4 linked regions of the Homo sapiens genome follow. The protein of the gene in region 1 interacts with the protein of each later gene in a pairwise test. Each region holds a gene or a part of one and is shown on either strand. Other genes may lie near its edges. The genes, in order: HPCAL1, CREM, COLGALT2 and SERPINI2.

What was found.
Region 2: the proteins of HPCAL1 (region 1) and CREM interact in binary tests that used the Homo sapiens proteins (3 or more experiments, as listed by UniProt).
Region 3: the proteins of HPCAL1 (region 1) and COLGALT2 interact in binary tests that used the Homo sapiens proteins (3 or more experiments, as listed by UniProt).
Region 4: the proteins of HPCAL1 (region 1) and SERPINI2 interact in binary tests that used the Homo sapiens proteins (3 or more experiments, as listed by UniProt).

The regions. Positions count from the first base shown.
Region 1 is NC_000002.12:10,424,880-10,428,120, reverse strand, and holds the end of HPCAL1 (hippocalcin-like protein 1), read right to left. Parts: exon of another isoform or gene 1,398-3,241; coding exon 1,300-1,397; 3' UTR 517-1,299; downstream 1-516. UniProt on the Homo sapiens protein: May be involved in the calcium-dependent regulation of rhodopsin phosphorylation.
Region 2 is NC_000010.11:35,178,816-35,185,855, reverse strand, and holds part of CREM (cAMP-responsive element modulator), read right to left. Parts: intron 6,985-7,040; exon of another isoform or gene 6,968-6,984; coding exon 6,870-6,967; intron 6,723-6,869; coding exon 6,580-6,722; coding exon of another isoform or gene 6,527-6,579; exon of another isoform or gene 6,009-6,526; intron 1-6,008.
Region 3 is NC_000001.11:184,027,695-184,034,734, forward strand, and holds part of COLGALT2 (procollagen galactosyltransferase 2), read right to left. Parts: intron 1-7,040. UniProt on the Homo sapiens protein: Beta-galactosyltransferase that transfers beta-galactose to hydroxylysine residues of collagen.
Region 4 is NC_000003.12:167,450,012-167,457,051, forward strand, and holds part of SERPINI2 (serpin I2 precursor), read right to left. Parts: intron 3,023-7,040; coding exon 2,925-3,022; intron 1-2,924.

The sequences.
Region 1 (3,241 bases):
GCTGATGCCTGGGGATCCCCAGCGATGCTGCCTTTGGATCCCTTGGCAGGCGAGACCAACCAACCCCCACTTCTTCAGCTGGGCCTTCTGCTGCTGGGACCAGAAGCACTGACGGCAGCGGCGAAGGCTGGATGGAGAACCAGGCCTGCCACCTCTGGGTCCAGCCTGACTGCACCCTTGGCTATGCCCGTCCTCTCTTGGAATGTGGCTTTCCTACGACCTGAAACCGTGGAAGGAGAAGGAGAGGGAAGGGCTGGGGGGAGGCAGAAGCCTGACCGTCAGATCTGCCAAGAACAGTCATCGTTTATTTCCACGAGTATTTCTTGGCATTAGGCAGATATTGAAGAACAGGCTGTGCAAGATTTATAAACGCGGGGACAGCTGGAGGGACGTAAGAGGGGCCGGATTTACCAACAGCGGTGGCACGCAGCACACCCGCCTTGCCTGGAGAGTGCAGGGGCCACGGCCTGAGGAATGGGGGCTCCCGCGGGCAGACGCAAAACTCAGAAAATGCCATTTATTTTATCATTTTAATACCGGAAATGCCAGACCAATCAACAGGGAGGACAGACCAGACACAAATGCCTGTGCTCACAACACGGATGGGAGGATCATCACGGCTCAGGGCACACATGCATTTCCTTAGAAACAGGCAGACAAAGAGAGCATAAATACCACACAACAGCCAGGCTCAGGGGGCTGCGGGCCACAGAGGGCTGCGCTTCAAAGGCAGTCAGAGGCATTAAATACGGGACCTACACAATACACTCCACTTCACCATACATAATTTATATATTAAAAGAAAGGGGACCACAGTATCTATACGTGCAAGCGGCTGTGGTGGAGAAAATGAACGGGGGGGCAGCCATGCACGGGAGGGGCTCCCTGTATACCCTCCCGACGCCTCGTCCCCACCCTTCCCACAGAGTCACTTGGGATCACAAAACGCATGGGCCGGCCGGGGCGCAGCCTCGGGAGGTCCTGCCTGGTCTCCTCGGCATGGACCTCTGAGCTCCCCGTGAGCCGGGAGGTGCCTGGAACCAAGAACACTTGAACCCTGCATGTCACCACATCCCTGGGAGTTGCCCTGGAAGGGACCGGGCCAGGCGTGAGGGGAGGAATGTCGCGTTGGTCAGGTGGAGGAGGGAGGCGCAGCCACCGGGCTGGGCAGGTGCAACGCATGCCCCAGGCCCGGGGCCCGGGAGAGCAGGAACGATTGCGGGGCATCCACTCTTGCAAGCAAAGCTTAAACGGCACGACAAGCCTGTGTTTCTCTGCAACTGTCCAGGGGCCGCTCGCTCAGAACTGACTGGCACTGCTGGGGTCGCACTGCAGCAGGCGGACGATGGAGGGGTCGCTCTTGGCACCTCTGATGAATTCTTCCAAGGACAGTTTGCCTGCAGGGGACCAGAGACAATGGGATTAGCCAGTGCTCACTGTTCTTTATGCTTCCAGAGAGGATGGGGACAGCTCTCAGGTCAGGTATGCTCCCTTTGTTGAAAGTCCTGAGCCTTCTTGAAGCTGGACGGTGTCTAGTCTCCATTCACTTTACAGGCATTTCTGAAAAAAAATCCTTTTTCCTTTCCCTGCTCCCTGCAATACATCAGGTACCTCAAAGGGCTTACCCAGCAAGCTCAGCAGGACGTGGCTGATGAGGGCCATTTAAATCCTTTTAGAAATCACCCCACACTTCGCTTATTAAGGAACGTGTACACTGTGCAGAAAAATGAAGCATTTGCCTCTAACCCATACAGAATCCAGGCTGAGAAGGCCATGCTGGTTGGGGGCCCCCGGAAGCACGGTCCGGATCCTCCCTGGCATCAGCGTAGACCCGCTGCTCAGGCTTGGGGTACCAAACTCATGCTCTGTACTGTTTTGGCCCCATGCGGTGAGAGGAAAACCTAGAAAAAGATTGGTCGTGCTAAGGAATCAGCTGCCCCCTCATCCTCCGCATCCAATGCTGGTGACAACATATTCCCTCTCCCAGGACACAGACTCGGTGACTCCACACTGGGCTGAGTGGCCTCTGGAGGCTCGTGGCCTAGGGCAGGGCTCCGTAAGGCTGATCGGCTGAGCTGGGTGGGGTGAGGTTTTCTGACCCTCCGCTCCCCATCCCATAACCGCTGTCAATGAGCTCACACTGTGGTCACTATAGCCCTGGCTCTGCTAGTCCACAAGCAGGATAGGCTGTAAGGATTCTGCCCGTTCAGACATGGCCTCAAGGGCAGGAGGCGGTCCCTCTGGCTCCAGCTGGTGGGGAAGGATGAGGTTTGAGGTTGGCTGCGTCCTGGCGGCCTGGTCCTGGGGCAGCCCCTCCATGTGTCTGTTTGAGGCTCTGTGCTGTCAGCTGGAATCACTAGGGCACCCTGCAAAATGTCTGTGCAGGCAACACAGACGCATGCAGCCAGGCCCAGCACAGGGGAAGGCATGCAGGAGGGGCTCTCGGCTCTGGCGCATGGCAAGCCACCAACGTTTCCAGGTCTCAGGATCTTCGTCTCGAAGGTGGGATAATGGGAACACCCATCTCAAAGGCACCTGGGAGGATGCATTTGAGGACTCAGACCAGCACCAGGACGGAGGATGCCCCTGCACAGTAGGGCCCTGCTGGGAATTCAGCCCCTCCAGCCCACTGGCAGGCAGGGACACCTGTCCTCATGGGACTCTGGCCCAGGCTTGGGCAGGCTGGCTTCTTCCAGGGCACGAACTTGATGCCTCTGGGGCCTGGGCAGCCTGCTGGCCCCAAGAGAGCCCAAACAATGCCCGGGCTAAGGGGTGGGTAGGGAGAGGGAGGGACAGCCAGGCCCTCAGCAGACAGTCCCCAGGAACCTCTGCCAATGGAGAGAGTGGCTCCCCACCCTCCACCTCTGACCACTCAGGGCAGCCAGCTGTGTGGTCATCTCCTTGGCTAGGTGTGGGGCCTCAGAGTCCACGGCCCCAGCCTCCCCACTTCCAGTTCCTGACCCCAGGCCCTCCTGTCTCAGGCCGAGAGAGAGCAGGCCAGCCCAGATGGACCTCCAGTCAGGAGAACCAGAGCTGCCCCAGGACGACTCTGAGGGCTGCTGAGATGCTGGGAGCTTCCGAAGGTTCCACTGGCTCCTCCTGATGGAGGGCAGGGCAGGCGAGGGGGTTGCTGAGCACAGCCTGTCCCACATGTGCGGCCTGACAAGCTGAGGAGAGGGTGGCTTTAATGATACTTGTGTCCTGGAGAAACCCATCAGCCCAGCCTAGAGGCCTGGAGCAG
Region 2 (7,040 bases), on another chromosome or scaffold:
CCACATGCTGCGTTCTCTGTGTTTTATTTCACTGACAGGCCAGTGTGGCAGAAACTGAAGAGTCAGTTACAGAATGTCAATAGAACTGAGGTTGAGACACCCTGATGTAACAGCACTTTATCTGGCTCACCTAGAGCAGTTATTTTCTGTACACACTTTAAAAACAGGGTATTTTTAAACCATGGCTTTCCAAAGATTTCATGGGTCTCAGGATTCAGCCCTCATAGTAAAAGGGTTTGAGAGAGATCTAACTAACTTCTTACAAGTATGAAAATGTCAAAAGACACTGCTTTCTTGGCCCCTTGTGGCTAGACATGAGTAAATTGTGTATGTTTTCATATATTTGAATGTGTATTTTTCAGTTGATAATTAGTTTGATGTCACAGAAATAGTGCTTTAGAAAGAGCAGCCCAAGGTCAGGTAACCACAGTGTATTAGAAGTACAAAGCCTAGGCCGGGCGCGGTGGCTCACATCTGTAATCCCAGCACTTTGGGAGGCCGAGGTTGGTGGATCACCTGAGGTCAGGAGTTCAAGACCAGCCTGACCAACAAGGAGAAACCCCGTCCCTACTAAAAATACAAGAAATTAGCCAGGCGTGGTGGTGCATGCCTGCAATCCCAGCTCCTCGGGAGGCTGAGGGAGGAGAATCGCTTGAATCTGGGAGGCGGGGGTTGCGGTGAGCAGAGATTGCACCATTGCACACCAGCCTGGACAAGAGCAAAACTCCGTCTCAAAAAAAAAAAAAAAAGAAGTACAAAGCCTAGAACAGAGCAGCCACTCAAAAAATAGAATGAATGAATGAATGAATGAATGAATGAATGGCTATCATTTCCTCATGACAGATGATATTATAAAAAACTTAAGCCCCCTGTGAATCTAGGAGAGTTAAATGAGGTATGGTTTCAAATTCCAATCATAGAACCTAGTTTTTCAACACCAAATTATCAAGCTTTTAAATAACGATCAAGTCAATCTGAGGTGAGAGTAGCTGCCTCAGGGTAAGAACCCCTAAATAGGTAGATAACAAAGACCTTTACTTCCTTTTTTCTCTTTCTTTTTGCTTTACTCGTTTCCTTTTTTCTTTTCAGTAATGTTTCCCCACAGTTCTGATCAAAAAACTTTGTTTTCACAATATGAACAGCTGACACATCAAGAATCTGTTTCTCATTTTATTTTCTGGGGAAGTCATTATATAATTAGATATGGAAAACAAAAGCTAAACAAACACACACACACACCCCTCACACACTGGCTCTAGTGAGAAAACATTTCTACTGATTAAGTCAGGCACGTCAGCCTCATTTTCATTTTTATGCCAAAGGTGCTCTTGATTTTGTTGTTATCAAATGACAGAGGACCTTCCCATTGAAAATGTTCTCTCTCATCTGACAATAAACAAAATTTCCCAGTGCCTCAGGATCCTGGAAATAGGTTTTACGTGGGCCTGTCTGTATTCAGAGATTTGAGGAGAAAACTGTTTAGGTTTCAAAATAGTCAAGGATAGCATAACATGTGCTTTCAATAAACATAAATCAAGATAGAAAAAATAAGATGAAATTAACTGAATGAATTTAGACATATCTTCTATTTTAGCTATTTATTTAAGAGATGGGGTCTTGCTGTGTTGCCCCACATCCTGATATTGGTCTAGCTGGTCTTAAACTGCTAGGCTCAAGCAATCCTTCTGCCTCAGCCTTCTGAGTAGCTGGGACTACAGGCACAAACCACCAAGCCTGGCGATGTTATACACTTCTTATTTATTTATTTGTTCATTTATTTTGAGATGGACTTTCACTCTTCTCGCCCAGGCTGAAGTGCAATCGTGTGATCTCAGCTCACTGCAACCTCCACCTGCTGGGTTCAAGCGATTCTCCTGCCTCAGCCTCCAAAGTAGCTGGGATTACAAGTGTGCACCACCACACCCGGCTAATTTTGTATTTTCAGTAGAGATGGGGTTTCACCATGTTGGCCAGGCTGGTCTCGAATGCCTGACCTCAGGTGATCCGCCCACCTCAGCCTCCCAAAGTGCTGGGATTACAGGCGTGAACCATCACGCCCGGCCCATGTTATATACTTCTAATCCTAAATTTATACACATGAGCTAATTAAAATACATACACATGTAAATGTTTATATTTAAAACCACTCTTGTTCCAAATTGCAATCCAAAGATTCATAAATGAAATCTCACTGCATTAACTTTAAAAACAGCAGCAAACAGACCTTTGTTCCAATGAATTCTCAGGTTTAAATTCAGAGTGACCATAAGAGAGCACCTATGAGTACTTGTACCTTAAAAGCCAAGAGGTGCATTATAGCAGAAGGAAGACTAAATCATGCTATAACAACAATAGCAACATCAAAGTTTAAAAGCCAGAGTTACATTAAGTAGTGCCTTAAAAAATTTTGAAACAGTTGCCTTAGAGAAATGTAAACAACGTCACTATTAAGAACTGCAACTGGATTAACTTTCGAATGTGTAAGCCTATTATGTTCTAATTCCCTTTATGAAGAAGTTGAATTGGTGCTTATTCGTGAGCCTCCTGAGAATTCTGAATTCTTATAAGGAGTCCACAAAGTTCATATTTTTCTTTTCATAATGGTGCAGTTTAGATTGACCCACTTACCTTTCATGTATAAGAATTCCAGAAAGATGAGTTAATACTCTAATAAGATTCCTCGTAAAATACAATAGGCACAAGCAGAGACAAGGGCCATTTGTGGGAAAAAAACTGAAGTCTTGGGTGATAGTCTTTAATTGGTACAGGAAGAGGTTGGGTATAGTAGGATGGAGGATTTAAGTAACCTTTGTTTCAAGAGGAAATTTAATGAATTAGGAAGCTTCAAACATTTTAATTTCCTCGGTTGCTTTTACAAATTCACTCATTTACTGCCTATCTTAACTGTCTCATGCAGCAAGTAACATTCTTTGTTAATTCTAAGGCTGTCTCTCTCCCGCCATCTCTCGGGTATATGCTTCTGAAATAAAAGACTTTCTTCGACCAGCTCAACTGTTATGCAACACACCTATCACTAAGATCTGTACTTCCAGTGAGGATTCTGCAGGTACAGCTCACTTACTTGGTGTTGTAATAATGGATCCCTGTCTATTTTATGCTTTTTCCTACTCCCCAGGGAGCAGCCTATTCCAACTTTCACTTTTTAGTTTTTGTGATAATAGTAAGTCAATATAATAAGGCCAACTTCTGCCAAATATCTTTCAACTATTAAAAATGTAACTGCTTGTATATGGGAAAACTTGAATATACTTTATTTCTTCAACTTTGATACACATTTAGTTCTTTTAAACACCAGCTAACTCATTATTCCAAATTAAAAATAACTAATAAAATATTGGAAAAAAAGAAATAAAAGCAAAGTTTGGGAGAAAGCCATCCATGGATAAAAGCTGAACAATTAAACCTAAAATTTTTTTTTATAATAAAAGGTTATGAAAGAGCATTAAAAAAAATTTACAGCTCAAAGGGAAGGAAAAAAATAGGAAAATCTCCAGAAATTCTAATAAAATACGTTCCTCTATTCAAAAACCAAAGGAAACTGGCAATTGTTTCCATTTCTAGACATTCTGCTACAACATTAAAGCATTAATATCTGCTAAGTTAGTTCTATAAAAAATAAGATCAATAAAAATGGATGTTGTGTGTGTAAGTATGTTTACCCTCCAATTAAAGTAAACGTCTTCTAAAAAGTTTGAATGTTGTTAGTATTCACTTCTCAAAGAATTATCTACATATATTTCACTAAATGTCCCCAAAATGCATTTTTAACAAAAGAAATTCACATTGTGTGAACAAATGGCAATTTTTACCTGCAGACTGTACATACAGAACTATAACTTCTCATCAGAATAATTTCTAGGATCATACTGTATAGACTCAAATTAAGAAACCAAAGTAAGAAATAGTCCATGACCTCTTATGTGGCAAATAGACAGATGTGTTTTTTTTGTTTGTTGTTTTGAGACAGAGTCTCACTCTGCTGCCCAGGTTGGACAGTGCAGTGGTGCAATCATAACTCACTGCAGCCTCAAACTCCTGGGCTCAGAGAATCCTCCCACCTCAGCCTCCTGAGTAGCTGGGATGAGCGCATACCACCACACCCTGCTAATTTTTAAAATTCTTTTGTAGAGACAGGGTCTCACTCTATTGCCCAGACTGGTCTCAAAGTCCTGGCCTCAAGCAACCCTCATTGCCTAGACCTCCCAAAGTGCTGGGATTACAGGTGGGAGCCATCACACCTGGCCTAAGATCTAATTTCTACAGATGCAGTTTTCTAGTTCTCAACCAAAATTCCTGACTCTGCTCCTCTCATCCCCCCCACAGACACACAGAGTGAGGTTTAAGGCCAGCCCCCTGCTGTGAGCAGGTACCAAGGACACAGGGAATGAAGCCATTGGGGCTGGCTGGAGGGAAAGTTCAATGAACATGAATGAGACAATGGTACACCTAACTTAATTTCTCTGTTTCATGCCAATAGTAGCATGTCTTTTTCCCCCTACTTTTACCCATTATCTCCTTTGTCTTCACAGGAACCCCAGAGTTTGGCAATTTAGTATTATTCCCACTTCAAAGACTAAAACCTGAGATGTGAATTTAATAAAGCTTCTTGCTCTGATCATTGAGTTTGCAAATGGCACAAAGATGGTTCCTTCCACATCCTCTCCAGCTTCAACCCCATACATTTTCACAATTTCAAATTTTCAGCTAATAATCTAGACAAGTTAACCCTACAGCATCTGCTTCCCTATCAACTTGTAAAGGAATCACTGCTTCTATCAGAAGTCCTAAGTAGCATTAGCATATGCCAGAGAAATGTTACGATGACAGCATCTTAGTGGTTCCCAACACTTTGAGAAGTCTTAGTGTCATTTCAGCAGTCACTTCCAACCTTTTCCCTGTCATTACACAAACAGAACATGATGACATGTGTACAGCCCACTGGGGTGAGTGGATGGAGCTGCTCAAGGCCAGGGCTGACCAGCCAGGAGGCGCCAGCAGCTTCTGCCCAGCCCCTCTGGGGACGGGGGGACGAGGCACTCAGCACTCTCATAACCTGCGTGCTGTGCTGTAGAGGCTCATCAGCTGGCATATTCAGTTTTACAGTTCTAAAACCCACCAGAGATTCCCAGTGTGCCAGACAAAAGAGCATGTAAACGAGAGAAGTAATAAAAAAATGACAATGTAAACCTCAAGGTCTATTTCTTACAGATGGTGGGGATTTTCTTTTCCTAACACTGACTTTGGACAAGTCTACTGGGTGCCCTGTCAAACGTGTGAATACACTACACCCCGGATCTGCTAGGTATCATGGTAGGAGTTCCCCTCAATTACCAACAGAGAATGTATTTAATAGTTTACTACTGCAAATCTACCACTGCTACAAGAAAAACTCTAAAAAGCTCCACAAAAATAATGACTATATAAAGTCTTCTCATACATTAAAGATTATAGCTTGTTTTAGTAGTCAGGACTTAAATTAAGACTTGAGTTTTTTTTTCTTGGTATTGCTACTTTTTAAAGGAAAAACAAAGAATATATCTAAAATCTTAATACCTTATTTGGATAAACACATTATTTAATATCACATATATTCCAGTACCTAAGTAGCTCTTTTTAAAGTCAGAAAACTAAAATTATGAATCTCTTCAACAACATGACTGCTGTCAATATATTTGTTCAATTACTTTGAGGACCTAGGGTAGCAGAGTTTACAAAACTCACTTTACTTCATATTATAATTACATGGGAAATTGATTTAGACAACTTCCATGGACAATTTATACTTCAGAAAGGACAGGAATATCACATTATTCCAGTACCTAAGGGGCTAGCTTAGGATATGTGATATCCCTAACCTTTCTCCTCCTTTTTCTTTTCTTTCTAGCTCTTGCTTTTTACGTATCAAACACTCTTCTTTTGGGAAAAAAACTAGTGCTTTAATCAGAGCAAAAAGCACAGAATTAACGGTCCATTAAAATGCACAAGACTGAATGTGAATGTATCTGTTTATTTAGAGCTTTCAGTGTGTAAAATTTCAAATAAAATTATCTATCCAATTGCTACAGTTTAAAAAATTAAATCATTTTTCCATTCTCTTTTAGGAAAAACTGTAGCACAAATTAACAGAGTAGAGAGTAGTGAAACATTGAAAACATACTTTAGAAAACTCTCAGATTAGTAAGAATAGTATGTAATTGTGGGTAACAAAAGCCAACAAGAATGAAATACAGACATTTATGTTCGCATGCATCATAAAGACAACAAAAACAATGTTTTACTAGAGATTAATATAAACATGTAAATAGGAAAAATTCTCCTTTTTACCCCAAAATTTTCTTCTATATTCGGCAGTCAAAATTTTTACTTTTCAAAATTATATGACAGCTGTCAATACAAAGATCTCACTTTTTAACATATACTTTCATTCTATGATACAGTTTAGGTATTAATGATGCATTTTAAAATGGAACAATTTAATGCCAAAACCTGAGTTGCTTCAATATAACTAGAGAAGACTTAAAGCTAGCACTGTATCATATCGAATTGCAGCATACATACTGTATTGCCCCGTGCTAGTCTGATATATGCTAGTTGGTACTGCCATGGTAGCAATACTAGGTGGTGTTCCTTCTTCCTCTGATCTCTCTTCTTCAATCTTGGGAACACCAGGCACATCAGAGGACAGTTCATTCAGTATTTTCCTAAAATACAATTTAACAAGGTAAGTCACTAAGATACATGAATAAGTCTTAAAACAGAAAAGCTATAAAGGAAGAATTGATTTGATGTATAATTATTCTACCATTTTGGAAAAAGTATCTTTACATTAGGAAACTTGGTTAACTTACCTATAAGAGGGTCTTCGTGAAAGGATTTCTCTACGTTTATGAGAATCAATTACACCTTCTGATTCTGCAGATTCATCTGTCTCTGCAATTGCTGCTACCTATAATACAAGATTTTCTGAAATGTATCATAAAATATATGCTCTTTTCCCTCATTCAAAAAATTGAGGCTAA
Region 3 (7,040 bases), on another chromosome or scaffold:
AAGGATGTAACATTTTAAAAATCCATTGTTTTAGAAATCCATAGTTTGTCTTGCTAAATAAAAAGCTTACAATGGAAACCAACGTACCCAATAAATTTTATTAAAATCTAACAAGATTGAGGAAAGGCAGAGAAGAGGCTTGTACTTTTCTAAAATATTTTCGTATGCTGGCTGTTTCAAGCCTTACATGCCAATTCCACAAAATCCATTTGCAACACAAGAGATGGTCTGACTGTCTGAATACTCTCCCGCCCAACCTGTTTCTAGCACAAGGAAAGCAGTGGCGTGGAAGCTGCATATAAGCTTACTGTTCAATGGTGCAGTGATGACATGAAAAATCCTGATTCCACTTGGCAGCAACTTTCCACTATCTTGGCGGGTGTAAACCATAATCATTGTGGTGTGTGGTGCTGAGACAGGATTATGGGGCTGGCTGGCAACCAAGAAACTAAAAAACAGTCTATTAGTCCAGCAAGGGACTCCGTGTCGGGAATGCTATGGCCCCAAATGTCTACAACCACACTTTTCACAACTATCCCAAGAATTTAAGTTCTACTGTTAGTCTCTAGAAAATTCTACCTTTCCCAAGACTCTAAAATGCAGCAGTTTCTCACTTAATATGGCTTTCAGGGAGAACACCAATCAATGTACCTCCACAGACTCTCCTGTCTTAGAGTTATGTCTCTCTCTTGTGAGAATGAGATACTTGCCTTCACCACTGCCCTCCCCATCTCCAAAACATATACAATCACTCTCAGAAAGAAAAGGGACTGGAAAGAAACAGTCCTACTTCCCTCTTGGCAGCAATTGTATGCACTTTGGGCTTGGCAGTCCAAATGGGGAAAGCTCTATGTAAGGAACCTCCTCTCTGCAGCCTGATGTATCCCTCAATAGGTCTTGAAGTGATTCAACCTGGAAGGTAATGAACTATTCCAATAAAGCCAATGTGTGAATGAAATCAGGTACTCATGAAAATGCTTCAGCTCAGCAGCTTGTCCCAGACTCATCTTCTACCATACTCTTGGGGGTATACAGCCCAAGATCACTATTCTAAGATCATTATTTATGTTATTATTTGTGTTTCTGAAAGACATATCTTCTAAGATGTCTTCAAACATTAATCAGAAAACACTGGAGGGAAGGAGATTATTTTGCATTATGTTTGCAGAGGAACAAAATCTTATCAGTTAAACCAACAAGTCAGGGGACAGGCCTTAGCTTGCTGAATTTGACAAACAACTAAAATAATAATTGTTGCTTCAATTAAGTGAAACACGTTACAAAGTCAGCCCTAGCAAGATGTCATGGAGCTATTATTCAAAGTCTAACTCTGAAAGGATTTCTGTATGGTGCTCCTAGAGAGGAAAAGAAACGCCCTGCAGCCAAATCTGAGGTTTAATTCATGCAAGAGACTTGGCTAATGCCACCTACCACAAATGCTGCATTTTCACGGATCTGAACTACAGAAAGTTCCAGCAAATTAATTACAGCCACTCTATTTATATTCTACCTGACTTTTCAATTATTACCTATAATGAGATTTTTATTTTTATGAACATTAATGCACAGCTTTCCTACCAGAGGAGTAGAGAGCTAAGGGAAAAGTAATACAATCCTGATCCTTTTACCACTAGGTCACTCGCTGGCAGCTTGCCAAGCCTGCTGGTTCCCCAAAGTAGTTACTGCTTGGGTCCTAGGGTTCCTTCAGCAGCCTGAGGTGGGAGCAAAGCTCACCACCCAAATGTCAACATGGGTCAGGCAAGTCAAGTCAAAGAAAGACAGCGGGGACTAACTGCAAGTGCACACAGTGTGGGTCTGATGGGGACTGGGCTGCCTGGACAAAATCCAGGGGACAGCAGCTACTCAGCTCCAACAATAGTTGCTGTGTATGAATCCAGGCCTGGCAAGGTCAGGTGCTGGTTACATGGCATGTTTTGTCTGTGAAAAGTTACCAAGTTATACATTTATGATATATGAACTTTTGGATAAATATTACACCTCATCAAAAAGTTTTTTTTATTAGGGCCAGACCTTCTAGAGGCCAGAGAGACAAGGACAAGAGAGCAGGACGGGTGTTATCAGAGAGGCCTTCAGAGTACCTGCCTGGAACAGGTGTTATATGAAGCTGGCTTTTATTGTGCCACCCAGGGCATGGCTGTAGATAGGCTGGCAGTGTTTAAAGAACATGGGATAGAGAGATGGATTTTAAAATATCACACTTATCCAGAACTGGATATGTAAAACACTCATATTTGGGTTAAAATGAAAAGGATATATGTATATGTATAGAAAGTTTCTAGAAAAATATGAAAGAAAGTGTTAATATTGGTCACTGGCAGGTGGTATAGAGTAGATGGGAGATTTACTTTTTGTGATATTCCCAATCATACTTTTTTTATTACTTTCCCATTTAAAAAAGTCAGAAGAGCAAATTCTTAAAATAACTGAAGTACTATTAAAAATCCATAAAGACCCTAAGGGATTCAAATTTTTAAAAACTAACAATTTTTGATATGCTAACAACATATCAATTAAATGCAATTAAATGAACAAGTCACTCTTTTGAAATAAAAATGTCAAAACATAGAATACATACGTTTTGTAATTCCTGATGAATAATAGCTATAATTTAAACACATATGGTAAAAGTTCTTCATGATATGGTAACTGGGGAATAGGTGTAGTGGCCATACCATAGGCTAATGATTTTCTTTCAGACTTTACTGTATGTTGTTATGCTATGTCAAGAAATATGCAGAAACAAGCCTTATTATTGTCCTACTATAGTCCTATATAAGCCTTATAATGGTCCTACTATACTGTGCCATAGACTTGGAGACGGTGCCACACAGCAATATGACCCAAGTGCACGTTTAAGTGTTGGAAAAAGAACCAAGAGACAACCAGCAGCCTTCTCAGTTACAAGGCATTCATTGTTCATTCCTATGACCACCAGAAACAGACAAGCAAAAGGAACCTAAGAAGCACATGCTTATGTATTTGGAGTCACAAAGAAACTCCCTGGCCTAATCACTTGGATAAAGGAGCTAAAAACAGATCTGAGAAAACCAAACTCTGCTTAAAATACTCCCCATGCTCCTTTAAACCAAGAAGGATATTCATTATAAAATAATCAGCATTAAAACAGCTACACAGGATTAAAAATCTAGAAATCAGTTATCTCATTCCATAATCACCATGGGAATCTCTTAACTGCCCTGTGCTTTAGATGCCTCATCATGGAACTCAATATAATAAAACCAGGGCAACTTAGGCATTCTTACTAATTCTGTAGTTAAGCTGTCATAACTGGAACAACAGGATTGGTGTCATTTATTAGTCACTTCAGTTTTTACCCAGAGGAAATATTCTGAGCTCCAATCATATTTTGAAATTGGAGGTTGCAGGGAGGATTGATAATTTCTTCAATCATTTGGAATGAAGCTGAATTTAGGGGACAACCAAATCTAAGACTACTGATTAAAAAGCCTGAAAAATGGAATCTCTATTTTACCAATATGAACTGAAAATGTAGCCAATACGTGTATGATTAGTGCCACCTTAATCATTTGCCACTAATAATACTTGAGAAATTTCTTTCTACTGTTATGTAGCTATGATCACAGCAAGTGACCTGCATATTTATGTACAACCCACATTTTAGTCATAATCTGTCCCTATGAAATATACCAAAACAGATTAGAGTTCACTAAAAAGTGCCTGAACTAAGTGATGAAATTATCAAGACAGCGGAAGAGAACCACTAAGACCCTTGCATCATTCAAGTGGAAATGACAATTCTTATTTGAAAGAAACACTAGCGTTCTTATCTTCCCAAGTTGGGTCAACCGACAGAAGCAAAAACTAGAACTAATTGGTCTTTTCACAATCTTAAGCAGACCATCTGTACTCGGTCTGCAACATTAGCTGCCTGGGTCACATCCTGGCTCCACCATGCATTAGCCTAGTGACCTCAGGCAAGTTATTTATATTCTCTGTGCCTCGGTTTCCTTCTGTGTAAAGTGATAGAGTAGAATGTAATGGCATCTCCCACCTAGGGTTGTTGTCTGGAGTAAATCAGTTTTGATACCAAAGTGTCTAGAACAGTGCCTCCATGAATGTATCCTTCCTTCCTTCCTTCCTTCCTTCCTTCCTTCCTTCCTTCCTTCCTTAGTTCTTTATTTTTCCCTTCCCTTACCTTTTCCTTTTTCTTTTCTTTTGAGACAGGGTCTCGCTGTGTTGCCCAGGAAGAAGCACAGTGGCTCAATCTCGGCTTGCTGCAACCTCCACCTCCTAGGTTCAAGCAATCCACCCACAGTCTCCCAAGTAGCTGGGACTATAGGTGCATGCCATCGTGCCTGGATGATTTTTACATTTCTTGTAGAGATGGAGTTTCACCATGTTGCCCAGGCTGGTCTTGAACTCCTTGGCTTAAGAAATCTGCCCACCTCGGCCCCCCAAAGTGCTAGGATTACAGGCATGAGCCACTGCATCCAGATAAATGTTAGTTTCCTATACTAATATTTTTTGTTGTTGTTGGAAAGAAGAAACTAAACAAATTTCCATTTGAAGATTTTTTAAAATCTTGATTTTGAAAGGTAAAGGTAAAGGAGATAGGAGAAAAAGGAAAAGATTCAAAAGAAATAGCAACTATCATTGTTAGTAGCATTTATGTAAAAGACACTGTGCATACCTTATATCATTTACTTGTAACAATAACTCTTTGAGACAGGTGTTACTATTAGTTATTTGAAGATAAGGCAGCTATGTCTTAGAGGTTTACTGATGTGCCCACAATCACACAGAAGATTTATGCTCTAGTCTATCTGACCCTAAGCTTGTATATTTCTTCCTCCAACTCTGGTTGATGCCCTCCACGCTAAACTACCAGATTGGGAAAATGAGGAAAGGAGGAAAAAGGTGAGGAAAACAGACTAACAGACAGAAGGGGCCTAAGGCATCATCTGCTTTTTCAGCCATAAACCGAAACTTCTATCTGTAGGGATAACATACAACATTTAATATCAAGAGTGTAATGATAAAATATGACATCATTCTTACCACTGGTGCTGAAAAATGTCACTGATACTAGTTTGGAACAGTTTATAAACACAAAGTATATTAGTATTTCTAGTTAAACAATTATGAAAATGCTACTGATTGGACATTAAAATGTGGAGATAAATTCAAGATAATCCCCAAACAATGCAGAAATAAAGTAGTATGCAAAATGTTAGGACCATCCCCCAGCTCATCACTGTTTATGTTTATGTCAACAGAAGCTCCTCTCTTTATTTAAAAATCCATAAAGCGGTTCCCAATTTAGTATGTTACTTTTCAAAACTCTGCCAAACAAAATGCCCAAATCTTTCTGTAATTACATAGCAGTTACTGCCTTGTGCCTGCACAGACTCTGTGAATCCCAACTGTCTTCCCACAAGCAACAGCAGGCTCTCCAAAAGAAAAACTTAATGTTTCATTTGGGGCAAATGTTTTTCCCTGCGCCATGCTTCGGTTTTCACTGTCATGGTACTTGGCCCCACTCTCCCTAATCATAGGTTTAAGGAGGATGAGGTCAGCCTTCCCTCTGTTGCTAAGGCTACTTGCTCATGGTTCCACTGAATTAAGGAGAACCCACTGAAGTACACTACCACTTGTCACAATGCCTCACAGTTCCCTTCATCTCAGCATATTCCCAATTCCCTAAAACTTAGTGCAGGTTTTAGGACACATGAAATAGATATCTTCCTTAGGTCCTTATCACAGGATTGTGATATTTGAAGGAAAACAATTAGCTTGGTGGATTTTGAGATCAGACAGGTAAATGTAAAAAGCTTTCCTTTTTGCTTATACAAAGTATCTCTAAAATATAAATTTTCCTTTGTTCAGACTAATCTGAATAAACTTGATGCTGACTGAGATAACTGCAGACATTCTTCAACAACAGTATCTTCCAGGTCAATTTGATGATACTCATTTCATCTGTATGTGCAGTGCAGATCTGGTCCAGAACTTAAAGTGAGAAAAATTATCACATAACAGGGGAGTCTGAATGTGATCAATAAGCCAGGTCTCTCACTGACCCATCTGGGACAGAAATCAGATGCTCCTCTAGCCTGTGAGTGGATGAATGAGAAGAGTGAGTCTGCACAGAGTGAGTTATTGTGGTCAGATTCAGAGGAAGCTGAATTCTGTGTGGCTCTGTATTCACTGCGGTTCTATTTTACAAAGTTCTGGGTAGCTCACAGCCATTTTTGACATCAGCATGTGCTGGCTTTGCAGAATGGATACTAATCAGTTTGGCATCTTGGAATGTTGCATAGAGCTTGGGAATGAGAAACTAGAGGCAAGCAATCGGTAGAAGCACCTCAAATCTGTAACATCCTAAACTGAGGTACCACCTCCCATCAGAGTGTTATATCTCATAAGCTTCCCAGCCAAATATTCCCCTAGGGCCAGACCAGAAGTCAGCACTTCCAAAGAGATTCTATGGTACAATACAATCTGTTTGGAGACTTGCAGTCATTAGACCTGCCACCCACTTGAACTCCCTGAGAGAAAACTCTGGTTGATGCCCTATTATCTTTTTTTTTTTTTTTGCTTGTTTTTTGCCTTGCTGATCCCTTTTTCTAGAGCCATCCTTCTTTCCCAGGTTTTAGTTGATTTTTACTCTTCCTTCAAAACTGAGTTCAAACTAAGTGTCCACTCATCAAGAAGACATCCATATCCATACAACTGCCCCAATCTGATTTATAAATCATTTGGTTCTTCCCCAAACCCTTTAAAAGCCATTCAGATCACCTTACACTGCCCAGTAAAATGAATCATATTTATCTGTAAAAAAACACACATATCTAAATACACTTTTTTTCAGCCCTGATCTGGCTGGTTCTTATTTTAAAAAATGCATTAGAAGAATATGCTTGTACAGCCTCTCTGTACCTCAGTTCTCTCACCTGTAAAGTGGTATAATAACAGTGCATATCTGATAGGGTCATTTTGAAGCTTAAACCAGAAAATGAATGTGAAGTTCTTAGAAG
Region 4 (7,040 bases), on another chromosome or scaffold:
TTTCCTCCCTTAGCCATTGTCTATAGACAGAATGAAAGAGGCTTTCCAGATCTGAATTAATCCCACCCTGTATATTTAACCTCAAAGCCAAAGTGCCTTTTATATTCTGTATTTGGTTTTGATCGTAGTTTAAAATAAAATGTACTTGCCTTCAAATCTGGGGAAGCTATGAAATTCTAAGGAACTTCTGTGTCACCTGTTACAAAATCACTTCAGAGATACACTTTAAAACCTGTTAAAATTTTCAGCATAAGATCGTGCTTTACAACGTTTTGTTCTGGTGTGGATATGAGCTGAGAGTGAATGCTCCTTTTTCTCCCCTTGGTGGAACTGATGTATATGTGAAGCGTTTCTGGTAGAGTGAATTGCAAGTATAGTCTCCTCAAGAAGGAAGAAGTGAAACCCGGAGCCCAGAAGCCATGTCAAGCTGGCCTTGCAAGACAAGATAGATCTGACAATGTTCCTCAGAGGACAAAGGAAGCATGCTCTAGAAAACTGCCTGGCTCATAATTGGCTCGCAATAAATATTTGTAATATATAAGTCAATAATAAATAGGTCAATGCATCTGAGTATGTCTAGTGATAGAAACCTGTAAAGTGGAGAGAGATGGGCATCCACACTATTAGTGTGAATTAACTGAAATGCGAGAGAATTTCTCTCAAGGTCCGGCAAATAAGCACCTTCTTCTCCCAGGACTGCCTGGAAGAAGACAAATAAACACAGAGGGAATGACCTAGTGGCCCACACCAAGAGGAAAGACCAAAAAGCAGGTTAGGAAGGAGTGAAGAATTTCACCCAGTTTAGCAATGGCACCAGCCCAAATGACTCCCTGGCTATTAGACTAATCCACTTAGTCTCCTTTGTTCCATCTCACTGCAGAGAAAGCCCAGTCTTAGGAAAAGAACAGGCCCTGAAATATGATAGGTTAGAAGTAAGAATGTGGACTCTACAAACTCATTCATTATACCTTCATAGTCATTATTTCTCTTAATTTTTAAATGAAAATTCTAAGTACATTGTTATTAAATTAAGAGAACAAGAAAACAATACGTTTGCTAGATGTGCAAGTAATATTAATGTGATACTTTTCCCACTTGCTGTTTTATATTTAACTATGTGCCAAATGTTAAACTAGATGATTTACATACATTCTTTTATTTATTTCCCCAGTCACTATATTATCTCACTTAACAGATTAGAATGCTTACACTCAGAAAGGTTAAATATTTTACTACAGGTTACACAAGGAGTAGTAACTGAGTGAGAAGTCAAATATTTTTCTAACAGTTTCCAAAATAACTCTATAAAAACATTTCATTCAAAACTTGTGAACTATATAAATATAAGGTAGTGTCCCTTTCACACAGATGTCCCATAAGACTAGTGTTGGGCTGCTTCATAGTAGCCTTTAGTGAATGTTTATTGTACAAATGATAAGTAGAGATAGCAGAGAATTTACTGTGCTCCTAGCTACCAGCAGGGGTATCAGCATTGGCTATGACTATTCTATTCTAGGCAATAAGACGGAACCAAAATGGTTAAAACAGCTCAAATAGGTAACTCAAGAGGGAAAGAACAGAAGATGCTGGACATTTATTCTTTTCTGCACTGGGTCATTTTCTTGAATAAAGTCTTTTATGAAACATTTTGGAAGTATTTTCTTTAAAAATCTGCCTGTAACAGGAGATTTTTTAGAAGTCACAAATTGCTGGGAATTTGCAGAACAAGTGGCTGTTTGAAGTGTCTGAGGCATATTGAGTGATCTCCCTATGGCCAGAAAGAAGTTTAAGAAAAGGAAGTGCATGAAAAATAGTTTGGATTATTGAAGGTTGAAGAGGTGGTTGTGTCTCAGGGCACACTTACAGAGCATCCTGTTGCAGTATTTAATGTTGACCATCTCATACCTAGTGCGGACAAAATTGTCAGAGAAGTCAGATCTATCTGTCAGTGTGAGAACGAGTAGCTACACCGTGTGTGAAGGTGATAATGAACATTTTGATATTTGTGACCTCATTCACCTCCTCCACCAGGAAAGTTTTTCATTCTGTTCATTTGCCCATATAATTGATGGGTGATGACTAAATTAACAACACGTTTCCAAAGCCCAGATACCTATATAGAAATAAATACATAAAACATTTCTGCACTATTTCATGTTATGATTTACAACCCCATCAGACAGACAAGCTTAGGCCCATTTTTATAGAACAGAAGACTGAATTTAAAAGAGGGTAAGTAACTTGGGACAAACTGGCTCTCTTCATCCATTTTTTTAGCGAGTTATTTTTGAACTAGTGTGTACCACTGAGACTCGAAGAATTCAAAGACTATCTTGGCTTTGTTGTACAAGTGAACGTGTTAACCATGCAGGATTCCCCTGATGCGAGTTAGCATAAGAGCTCCATCTTATCTTCTCAGATATGTTGTCAGCCCAAAAGACTCTGTTGCTAAATCTGCAAGCTGTAGCGTTACAATTTCTTGATTGTGTTCATCATCCAGCAGCTTATGGATGACTATTTCATGTGTTCTCATATTAGTGAATTAACATTTGCAAATTGGTTTATAAGAGTTGTATTAGCTCTGCTTAGATGAGAGACTCAAAGTTGTAATTCCCATTATTCAGATGAGGAGATCCAAACAGGGCAGAAATAAAAACCCATATAATACTTTTACTTATGTAGTTTTATTAGAAGTATAGCCAGAGTGCTTATCTAACATTCTAAAATGCTTTTTGACTTTCATTAAGAAAAACTACTTAAACATAAAGTGCTTGTTTACAGACAGCTCAACATGACTATGACATTTATTCACTGTGCGTATATTTATCAGAGCTGAATGCTCTTTCAGTTTTAAGCTCAGCTAGTTAATGTAGTCCTAACAAAACAAATTAACATCATAATATAAGAATTATTTATCATACTACCTGTTATTCCAGAAAGGTCGCAGCCACCACTAAATATCTCGGTTATGTTCAAAGAATACAAAACGTCTTTGAAGTCTACTTTTTGTTCTACTTTAAATCTGTTATTAAAAAAAAAAGAAAAAGAAAAGTCTTGAAACACTGCACATTTTTGCTACCAATTTTTTAATGGATGACTTAGAGGATAATATATTGTAAAATCTTTTGTTTTTATTATCTCAATTACATTTTCTCACATTTCACACCATTTTCCCCGGCTCCAACAATCAGCTCTGGGTTGCCAATAACTTGCTTCCCAGATAAATGGTTGGAGGAAAGAGGGAACAGAAATTGCATTTTTTTTTGAAGTAACAATTACCCAACAAAACTCGGTGAGAATTCTAAGTTCTATCTAAGGTCTCAATTGCTTGGCTTCTTTCTAACAAGTCTAAAATTTCCCTCTTATGTATTCAAGATTTTTACACCATCAAAGATGGTTCCTGGCAGATGCCCATGACATGATGAGCAGGGAACAGGAGTCCACAGTCCTTGGAGAAGATTGTTAGCTATTAAGGAAGAGAGAAATATTTATAACCCATCATTCATCTCGCCCATTGTCACAGTCAATGAGATGTTCTTTAGTGTATGGACAGGCCTAATATCTTTTAAATAGGCCCTATAAAAGGATAAAGGAAGGGGAACCAGATTTCTTTCAAAGGAAATAAAAGACAAAAATTACAGGAGTGGGGGGGGGTGGGCAAAAAAAAAAGGAGGTAGCCACTGCTTCCAACACTGAGCCGTAAGTTAGGAGACTAGTGTCTGGCTCACCTGTCTGTGCCTTAATTTGCCTCACCTGTGAAAAGGGAACTTAACCAGATAATCCCAAAAGATTTTCTCAGCCACTGATCTTCCACGATTCCAAGTCAAAAGCAATCACTGAACCTCACTTTCCCATTTAAATAAAAGTGGGGGTGGGGGGAAGCTAGTACTTATTGACTTCATAGATGCTTAAAGCATTAATTTGCATTTTAAATACAGATCAGAAACTTTGTTTATGAAAGAAAAGACACATGTAATAATCTTAAACAGGGAGCTATATATATTTCCTACATCAGCAAAATTCCAGGCAATTCCCAATGAGGGGCTTTGTCTATGCCCTCTGGGCATTGACCCCTGTGCTCCCCAGTTAGAATGCATACGCTAGTGCTCAAGGATCCTTGTTCATTCAGCAGGTAGGCCCACATCTGGAGCTAGAAATTAGGTGGGGCAATCAGTCTAATTAGATCATTGTTTTAATTGGAAATACTGAATGAGCTTCTTAATTATAATTCTCCAAAGCAATGAACATGCTGTGGCAGAACTCTACTGGGACTAAATTATTTCTTGGTAAAACAATATGTTTTTTTGGAAGATGGTAACTCATTCAGAACCCTATCTACCTGGGAATGGACACAACATGCACATTAAAATCAGCTGATAAAGAAAATAGCTCATTCTATGCCAACTGCTTTCACCCTCTTCCTTGTAACTTCCTACTAAGAAAGATAATATGCAGCATGATGGTTTGGGAGGTTGGCTTTTTTCCTGTTTTTATTACCACAGTCTTTAAACTGAATGGAGTATGGGCTTTTAAAGGGTGGAGAATATATGTTCTAATCTACCTATAAATGGGCTATAATAGTCCAATAATTTTAGGATAATGACAAAAATACTGCAAGACTTATTACAACTTCTAATAATGCCTAATTATCACTGGAGAGTCATTTAAGTAACAGTCCTGCTCATAATATAGTCCAATGAAACCTACAGCAATAAAAACACATTCAGCCATCTAATGAATGTATAATCTACAGCCAATTCCTAATTATCCATAATTATTGGAGCCATGAATAGCCAGGTGTGAAGAAGCACTGCCATGTGTTAGGTACTTAAGATAAATTATAGTTTTTAATCTTTAGAAAAATCTAAGGAAGTCGGCATTATTTCCATTAACGTATAAGAAAATAGAAGCCTGAGGAGGTTAATTTTCAGGCTTAAGGTTAAGGTAGGTTCCAGAGGTATGATTTAAACTCAGGTCTATTTGAAGTCAAAGCTAATGTGCTAACTGCCACTACTTTCTAATCAAAATGTAATTCAACACCACCATATTGGTCAATATATATAATGTCCCTCTTCCAAAGTTTATGAGTCTTCATATTTCTCCCAGTTGTGGTTCATTTTCCCTTTTCCTTAATCCTCCTCTAAAATTGTCAAAAGAACAGCAGGCAAAAGTAGAAGAATGAGCAGCAAAATGCTAGATAAACAATTAGCAACTAAATCATGAATGGAATTTTTAGCATATGCAAATAATATCTATTTGTTTAAAAGAGAGTAATTCACTCCCAAATGTAACCATTGTGCTGAAACAGATCTCACAAAGGGAAAAGCTGCAGAAAAATGAAAAACAATCCCAATTTTTGTTTTAAGAATGACCTACTTCTGGCCTCCAGGCCCTGTTGGGGAATGGTATTGGCCCTTCCTTTCCCCTTATCCCCAGAGTTCTTGTTTAATGAAAAAAAGTCTTGGATCAATTTCCCTCTGGGTTTGTGTTATCATCTGAAATCCCAGCTTTGGTACAGTGGGCTTGAATCATTCTTGGTGTATTAGGCTATTCTCACACTGCTATAAAGAAATACGAGTCTCAAAAAAAAAAAAAGAAAAGAAAAGAAAAGAAAAGAAAAAAGAAATACCTGAGACTGGGTAATTTATAAAGAAAAGAAGTTTAATTGGTTCACAGTTCCAAAGGCTGTACAGGGAGCATGATGCTGGCATTTGTTGGTTACCAGGGAGGTATCAGGAAACTTACAATCATGGCTGAAGGCAAAGAGGAATGGGCACATCTTACATGGCTGGAATAGGAGGAAGAGAAACAGGGGGCAGGGGCTACACACTTTTGAACAACCAAATCTCGTGAGAACTCTACGATGAGCACAGCACTGAAGGGGGAAATTTGCCCCCATGATCCCATCACTTTCCACCAGGCCCCATCTCCAACACTGGGGATTGCAATTTGACATGAGATTTGGGTGGGGACATAAATCCAAACCATATCACTTGTACTGTTCAGAGCTGGAACCAACCAAACCAAATCTTAGGGTTGCTCATGAGGAGAAAAATACAACACAATCTTTGACAATGGTGGCCCTAGATGGTTATGTGAGTACACAGTAAATTCTGGTCACTTTCCAATCAATTACCTCTGTGTGTGTGTGTGTGTGTGTGTGTGTGTGTGTGTGTGTAAAATAATTAAAATACTCTATTAACGTCACAGGCTGAATTTAAAATACTTTCACATATGAAACATCTGGATAATGTTTAATGTATGCCTAGTATTCCCATTTTTATCCATGTCCAATAGGTCAAAGTAAACGAACATTTTGTAATCACTACTGCAGCTGGTCACAACGTATCTATTCTCATATCCAGTCTCATTTTCCTTGCCTTCCTGCCACCCACACACAATTTACATTCACCCACTTATAGATCCAAGGCTGGCCAAGCCTAGAATTAATTTCTAGCCAGCAAAAAGATGATCATTTATGTCCTGTGGTAAGTGTTACATCTTTTGAAAAGTCTCCTTGGTACGGCTACTCCAGATCTCTCATCCTACTGCTCACCCTATCACTGACTGTTTGTTCTGTTCTGTGCTCCCTCTCTTGCTTGCCCTACAGTCACCTGTTTTCAGACGTCTGGCTGACCTCTTCTAGTATTGGCTCAGCCATTAATTAGCTGTGTGACCATAGGCAAGGTATTTACCTGTCTCCATCTTGTCTGTAACCTTAATGTAAAACTAGACCTTCATCAAATTGATTGAGGAATTTAATGCGATATGATGGGGGGCCACCTATTACAATGTTGGCATTATAATATATGGCCACTGTTAGAATTAAATGAGTAATAATACAAATAATATTTAGCTAATATTGAGCACTAAAAATTGTATACACATTATCTCATGGAATCCTCACAACACTAAGAGGCATGTGTTATCATTACTGCATTTAACAGTATAAGAAAAATCTTAGAAAAGTAATTTGCTTAAAGTTATATAGTAAGAAAGTGGCAGGGCTCTGGGTCTTCAATATTATTTTCAGTAATCTG